Linked DNA regions of Homo sapiens. The protein of the gene in region 1 purifies or fractionates together with the protein of each later gene. This does not show direct contact. Each region holds a gene or a part of one and is shown on either strand. Other genes may lie near its edges.

Evidence for each region. The genes of interacting proteins can lie anywhere in the genome.
Region 2: the proteins of FAM90A1 (region 1) and SUFU purify together in Homo sapiens (affinity purification with mass spectrometry; 4 studies listed by BioGRID and IntAct, with this or other methods). This does not show direct contact.

The regions. Positions count from the first base shown.
Region 1 is NC_000012.12:8,225,397-8,229,144, reverse strand, and holds the start of FAM90A1 (protein FAM90A1), read left to right. Parts: upstream 1-1,526; 5' UTR 1,527-1,665; intron 1,666-2,666; 5' UTR 2,667-2,873; intron 2,874-3,130; exon of another isoform or gene 3,131-3,152; 5' UTR 3,153-3,309; intron 3,310-3,748.
Region 2 is NC_000010.11:102,506,972-102,510,619, reverse strand, and holds part of SUFU (suppressor of fused homolog), read right to left. Parts: intron 2,342-3,648; exon of another isoform or gene 1,714-2,341; intron 1,452-1,713; coding exon 1,317-1,451; intron 1-1,316. UniProt on the Homo sapiens protein: Negative regulator in the hedgehog/smoothened signaling pathway. Down-regulates GLI1-mediated transactivation of target genes. Down-regulates GLI2-mediated transactivation of target genes. Part of a corepressor complex that acts on DNA-bound GLI1.

The DNA of each region.
Region 1 (3,748 bases):
CTGCAACCTTCACCTCCCAGGTTCACCTCCCGCCTGTAATCCCAGCATTTTGGGAGGCCAAGGCGGGTGGATCACCTGAGGTCAGGAGTTCAAGACCAGCCCGGCCAACATGGTGAAACCCCATCTCTACTAAAAAAAAATACAAAATTAGCGAAGCTAATTCGTGGCAGGTGCCTGTAATCCCAGCTACTCAGGAGGCTGAGGCAGGAGAATCGCTTGAACCCGGGAAGGCAGAGGTTGCAGTGAGCCAAGATCGCGCCATTGCACTCCAGCCTGGGCTACAAGAGCGAAACTCCGTCTCAAAATAATAATAATAATAATAATAATAATAATAATAATAATAATAACAAGAGCGAAACTCCGTCTCAAAATAATAATAATAATAATAATAATAATAATAAACCACATCACACCCACCACAAACCAGCTGTCAGTGTGAAAATAAAGCCAAATAGCTTAACATTTCTAAAGACTAGCTGGGGCTAGGCATGATGGGTCAGGCCTGGAATCTCAGCACTTAGGGAGGCCAAGGCGAGAGGATCACTTGAGGTCAGGAGTTCAAGACCAGCCTGGCCAACATGGTGAAACCCTGTCTCTGCTAAAAATACAAAAATAAGCCAGGTGTTGTGGCGGGCTCCTGTAATCCTGTAATCTACTTGGGAGGCTGAGGTGGGTGAATCGCTTGAACCCAGGAGGCGGAGGTTGCATGAACTGAGATCGTGCACTCCAGCCTAGGCAACGGAGCAAGACTGTCTAAAACAAAGACTAGCTGGAGAATCCTGCCAGGAAAAGGCCCTCAGACTCCAACTGCTCTGCTCACTCGAAGCTGGAAGATGCGGCTCTAGAGACGCATCAGGACCAAGCCACGACTCCCCACTTGGAGAAATCAACGCGGAAAGAGACGGAGGCAAAGGAGAACCATCGCACTGGGAGAGGCGACGCTGTTTGACACATCGTCCCTGTACCTCCCAAAGCCACTGCCCTCCCACACCTGGGCAACAGTGGCCCCAACCCCAGGCCCAGCCCTCCTGCAGGAAGGAAGAGGACTGAATGGAGGGCGTGGCAGACTGAAAGGACGTGGCCTCCTCAAACCCCTTGGTAAAGGGCCTCTGGGGCCACCTGGCAGGGAGGGGCTGGCACACCAGGAAGTAGCCTCCTCCCGGGAGTTCAGCTAGAGCCCAGGTCCTGTCCCCAAGTGGCCTCCAGAGCCACCTTTTCTGAAAAAAGTACATCCTGCCCACCCCTGTTCCCCCTGCTTAAGGCCCCGCGTCCTCCCTGAGCCTCCTGCTGGCCTCTCACCTAGAAGCGGGGGTAGTCCTCGGCCCTCCAGCCAGGGGGTGCAGACCTGGATGTGCTGGAAATGCTTCTGGTGGATGAGGCGGCTGTAATACTCCCTCAGAGGCCCTTTGCCTTCACAGAGAAAAGCAGACACTGCCATGGACCCGTCTCTCTCCGTGCCACGTGGCCCCAGGCCCAAGACACTCCCCCTAGGAGGGATCCTTTTCCCAGAAGCTCCACCCCTCGGCAGCTCCAGTCAGGCCCCATCCGGGCCCTTCCAGAAGCAACCCAGGAGCCCCGAGACCTGCAGGGATGTGTGCACCCTGACCCCTGACGCATAGCCCTGCACCTGCAGCCAGCTGGCCTCGGGCTTGAAAACATGGCGGGGTAAGCACTGGCCTGGCACCCGACCGCCCACTGGGTGGACCCAGCCTTCTGTCTGTGTTGTGCGCAGGGGACACGAGGACTCCCGCTGCCCTGACACAGCCCCCAGATCACATGGCGCAGGTTCCAAGCCGCCCCTGCCCTGCCACAGCCCCCAGAGCACACGGCGCAGGTTCCAAACCACTCCTGGGAGCCTAGAGGCCAAAGGAGGGAGGAGAGCAGGACCAGCAGCTGGCCCAGACCCCGCCTCTTCCCACACCGCTTCTGCTTTTCCCCCTCCTCACTGAGTCATCTTGAAAGGGCTCAGCAGCAGTAACTGAGGGACAGGGGCTCTTCCGTTTGAAAAATTAAAAGAGGCTTGGTTAAGGCAACAATGACATGACCGGGCACAATGGCTCATATCAATAATTCCAGCATATTGGGAGGCCAAGGCAGGTGGATCACCTGAGGTCAGGAGTTCAAGACCAGCCTGGCCAACATGGTGAAACCCTGTTTCTACTAAAAATACCAAAATAAGCTGGGTGTAGTGGGCACCTGTAGTCCCAGCTACTCGGGAGGCTGAGGCATGAGAATTGCTTGACTGTGAGACGCGGAGGTTGCAGTGAGCTGAGATCACACCACTGCACCCCAGCCTGGGCGACAGAGACTGTGTCTCAAAAAAAAAAAAAAAAAAAAAAAAAGACATCAATGAAGAAACAAGAAAAAAAAAAAGATGCTTGGAAACTACTGAAAAATTAGAAAGCTTGGTATGTACAGATTCACATCTGGGCTCCCTGCCCTGCTGTGAAACCCTCTGAGCTTCAGTTTCCCACATGTAAAGCAGTATAAGACCCTATGGCAGAGAGCTGCAGTGGGGATTAAGGAGACAAGATCGTGGGAAGCACAAGGTAAAGGCGGCGTGCCCCTCCCTGGACTCCAATGCCTGGAGTCTCAAGACCAGCTGAAAAGGGAGCCAGGCACTGAAGGACAAAGCGGTGTTGACTTTCTTCATCTGTGTTTCCCAGTGCGCTCCAATTCACGGTGGTTTCCAAGCGCATTCTGGAGGAGAAAACACATGAGTGTGTGGTCAGGGTTCTCTGCTGACAGACCTACCGTGGGGAAGAAAGAGAAGCTCTGAAGATGGATCATGGCCGTGACTGCATGTCAAGGAGAATCTCCATGATGACACGGAGGCCTACGTCGAGATAGAGTAAATATGGTCCAATTAAAAGGTGTCTATTTTACCACATTTTTTAAAACAAAACAAAACACAAAAACAAAAAAGATGGAAAAGAAGACAGGGGTACAGGCACCAGTGTTACATATCTGACGGGGAACATCTATTCTTCAAAGCTTGCAGCTGTACACGTAGGTTTTAGAATGTCTGTCAGCAGTGGACATGATCTTAGAGTGGGCTGTGCAGATAGACCTTTCCGAGTCATGTAATTGGATTAAGTTAATTGTAATTAACCTACATGTAACTGATTAGGTTAGGGTACGTTCCACGTCAGGTGACCAGAGGCAGTATAAAAGGCAGCCTGGAAAGCAGAGGTCCCTCTCTGCCCCTTCCTCCGTCTTCCTGGATGCTGCATCGCTTCCAGCGGGGCTGCTCCAGCACCTGCCCATCTCAGCGCCAGCCGGGGAAAGAAAGTAGACGTGTAATTTCAGGTTAGTTTCACTGAACAGTTGTTTGTTTCACGCAATCCCTGAGGGGTGGGGGGGAAAAGAGACAAAGGAGGCCGAAAGAAAGCGATCACACTGGGGCTTGCTGATGCGGTAGGGTGTGCTCTCGTTACTAGTAATTCTTGGAACAGAAAACGAGAAAGCATTTCCGTCTCCATGTGTGGGATAAGACCAAGGTGGGAATGCGAAAAGAAATGTACTGCAGCATGCTGAATTGGTGGGTAAATGGAAAAAGGACTTTGGAAAAAAGGGTGGTTTGCCCTTCAGCCGTGTAAGACATTGATACGATATGGCACTTGTTCACCGTTCGTTTAGATGAATTCGTGTGGCATGCGTAAAATACCAGAAAAATAAATAAAGAGGGGCTGGAGCTAAAGCCAAAAAGATAGAACAGGAAAGACCATCACCTGCTAGTGTGGTAGAG
Region 2 (3,648 bases), on another chromosome or scaffold:
GAACTCCTGACCTCAAGTGAGCCACCTGCCTCAGCCCCACAAAGTGCTGGGATTACAGGCATGAGCCACTGTGCCCAGCCAAAAAAAATCTTTTTAAAATATAGATGGTAGCAGGCCGGGCACAGTCGTCACGCCTGTAATCCCAGCACTTTGGGAGGCCGAGGCAGGCAGATCACGAGGTCAGGAGATCAAGACCATCCTGGCTAACATGGTGAAACCCCGTCTCTACTAAAAATACAAAAATTAGCTGGGCGTGGTGGTGGGTGCCTATAGTCCCAGGTACTCAGGAGGCTGAGACAGGAGAATGGCGTGAACCCGGCAGGTGGAGCTTGCAGTGAGCCAAGATCACCCCACTGCACTCCAGCCTGGGCAACAAAGCGAGACTCTGTTTCTAAAAAAAATAGTTGGTAGCTTATTGGAGTACATGATATAATTGCTCAAAAGGCAAGAGAATACAGTCATTAACAGTATGAACTCTGAGTTGGGCACAGTGGCTCACACCCATAATCCCGACACTTTGGGAAGCTGAGGTGGAAGAACTGCTTAAGCCCAGGAGTTTGAGACCAGCCTGGGCAACATGGTGAAACCCTGTCTCTACAAAAAAATTACAAAAATTAGCTGGGCATGGTGGTGCTTGCCTGTCGTCCCAGCTACTCGGGAGGCTGAGGTTGGAGGATCACCTGAGCCTAGGGAGGTCGAGGCTGCAGTGAACCATGATCATACCACTGCACTCTAGCCTGGATGACAGAGTGAGACCCTATCTCCAAAAAAAAGCATATAGGGCAACAAACGGAAGCAGACTAAGATAAAAAAATAAATAAATACAGGTTAAAAGGAAGTAGGTAAGATAGATAAAGGATAAGAGATGAACAGATTTGTGATAAAGCAAGTATAAAGTTAACAGTAGAATCTGGGTTGTGGGTATATGAGTGTTCACTATAAAATCCTTCCAACTTTGCTTTATGTTTAAAATGTTTCATAATAAGCTAGGGGAATAAAAGGAAGTAGACACAGAGGCATCAGCCCAAGTTCTGAGTCATAACCATGCTACCTTCCTGTCCTATGAGCCCAAACTCCAGGGCAAGCTTAGAAAAACCTGATTTGGGAATCCTGCTCATCAAGACTTTCCTGCACTAGATAAGCAGGAATCAGGTGTTAACGAGGACCACCTTGGCATGAGTAGATATAGTCAGAGGGCAGAAATGCAGAGGTTCCACGGAGAAGTACCATGCTCACAGCACTATGACATTGTCACCCCTGCTCAGGAAGACCTCAGGAATAAGGCTCTGGATAAAGAACAGGTGGCATATACTCACTCATGGACTCTGTTGTCACCATAGAGATCACTCAGGCCGAAGCTGATGTAGTGCCAGTGCTCGGGGATGTTAGCAGAAGGGCTCCCCACATTCCTGTACATGCTAACATAGTCCAAGGGGTCTGGGCCACCCAACCTGCAAAAAACAAAACACAGGGGTGTTAGTGTAAGCCTGGAAATCAGACAATGTCAAGCTAAGGCGCTCTACTTTGTAAACCTAAAGGACCCATCCTGGAGGAACCTGGGTGAAAGGTAACTAAACAGAGGCCACATCTCTCCAGAATGAGACTAAGGGATGGACAGCTAAGGCTGCCCAACTCTGCAAGCCCAAGAGGCTCCCTTCTCCTACCCCTGAAAGACTGGGCCTCTTTTAGAAATAAAACAGACTGGATGGTTACCCATTTTGCTTTCTCCTGTTTCAAATTACCGATCCCAAATGAGATTGGCAGGGATTGTCTCTCTTCTGTGGTGCCTGTATACATGCCAAGCTTCAAGGCAAGAGGTACATCAGTCAATCAATTGGCCTCTGTTGAAAGACCATCCCAAGCATCCCCAATGGGCATTGTTCCTGGAAGCAGAGGCTCTGCTCCACTCCAGCCTCTTAGACAGCTAATTCCTGAAAGACTATATTGTGCCCTATGTTAATTACAGTTTGTTCTAAACAAACCCAAAGCCTCTAGTCTGTGCTGACACCAGCCTGCACCCCATAGACCAAAGCTGGTCTCTTATCATTGCAAGTGACAAAGGCCAAACTTAGGCTTAACTTAGTTCTGCACAGAGAACTGCAGAAGGAGTCAAACTGCGCCCTGTGAGCATCTGCACCCAGAAAATGATCCCAGGAGAGACTGCCACATCAAAGGTAGAGCTGGGATGGTAAATGATTTGGGGCCTCTCAGGACCACATTAAATTTCCCCCACCATTCAACTGAGAAGGAGTTGCGGAAGAGATTCAGTTATTATCTCACTCTGAGGATTTAATACAATAAGAGTTCCCTTTAGTAATCAGTGCTTTTTAAAAAAAATCCTGTTTTGGCCGGGCACGGTGGCTCACACCTGTAATCTCTGCACTTTGGGAGGCCGAAGTGGGTGGATTACTTGAGGTCAGGAGTTTGAGACCAGCCTGGCCAACATGGTGAAACCCCATCTCTACTAAAGATACAAAAAATTAGCCAGGTGTGGTGGCAGGTGCCTGTAATCCCAGCTATTTGCTATTTGAGAGGCTGAGGCAGGAGAATCGCCTGGACAACAGAGGCAGAGGTTGCAGGGAGCCAAGATTGCGCCACTGCACTCCAGCCTGGGTGACAGAGTGAGACTTTGTCTAAAAAAAAAAAAAAAAAAAAAAATGGATAAGAAATTTTGGTAGCTAGAGAAATAGACCAAATAGAAACCATCAGTGGAAGGAAGTCTGCATTTAGCCCACAAACACGGCATTTGAGCTGCCTCAAACATCTGACCATTCCACAGACTGCAAAAGCTTCACCTGCCCCTGGGACATCGATGGAGTACACTTTGCAACTGGGATAGCATGCTGGTGGAAAGCTAACAACCAAATAAAAGACATGTTACAAGTGATCCCAGTCAATGGTGCCAGCACCAGGCAATTTAAACACTATTTAAAACCAGTTGGTCTTGTTTCGTCCTCTTTCACCAGGATATTATTTGCCTTTGTGGATAGAAATCCCTATTCTCTGTTAGGAAATGCTAAGTTATTTATAGAACTTTTAAGAAAGTTGCTACAAATAGCTTAGCATCTCAACAGAGGAAGAGGGACAACTCTCCATGTCTGCCTTAACTGATTTCAACAAATCACTTGACTAATTCTACAACAGGTTGGATTTAGAAAAGTTTGTGGGGCAAGGGAAGAAAGAAAAGAGTAGAGATCCCTGGAAAGACCCCATTAGAGCTACAGAACTCCAGAGCAGATGAGAGCCACTACAGGCCCCATACCTGCTCCAGTTTCCTGCTGCAAATTTCCAAACCTGCCCCGCTACAGCCTAGGTCCATCCTGCACCAAGCTGCAAAACTGTGTTTACCATTCTCTGCTCCATCTGCAGCATCCCTGCAGCCCTCTTTCTCACCAAGTCTCCCACAAGGTGTCACATCAAGGAGAGAAGCTTAACCTTCAAACTCCAACTGCAAGGAACTACCAAGAGTCAGATAAAATTAACCCTGTCCCCAAGCACAGAGTATTCTGTTTACTTACTACTCAGAGGCCAGATGAGTATGTGGAAAAAAATCGCATTTTACACTTAGCAAATGATGTTATCCAAGGTCCCAGGGCATCCCTCAACTTAATTCCTTGAACACCCAACTTCTCTCTGCAGGGCAGTTGC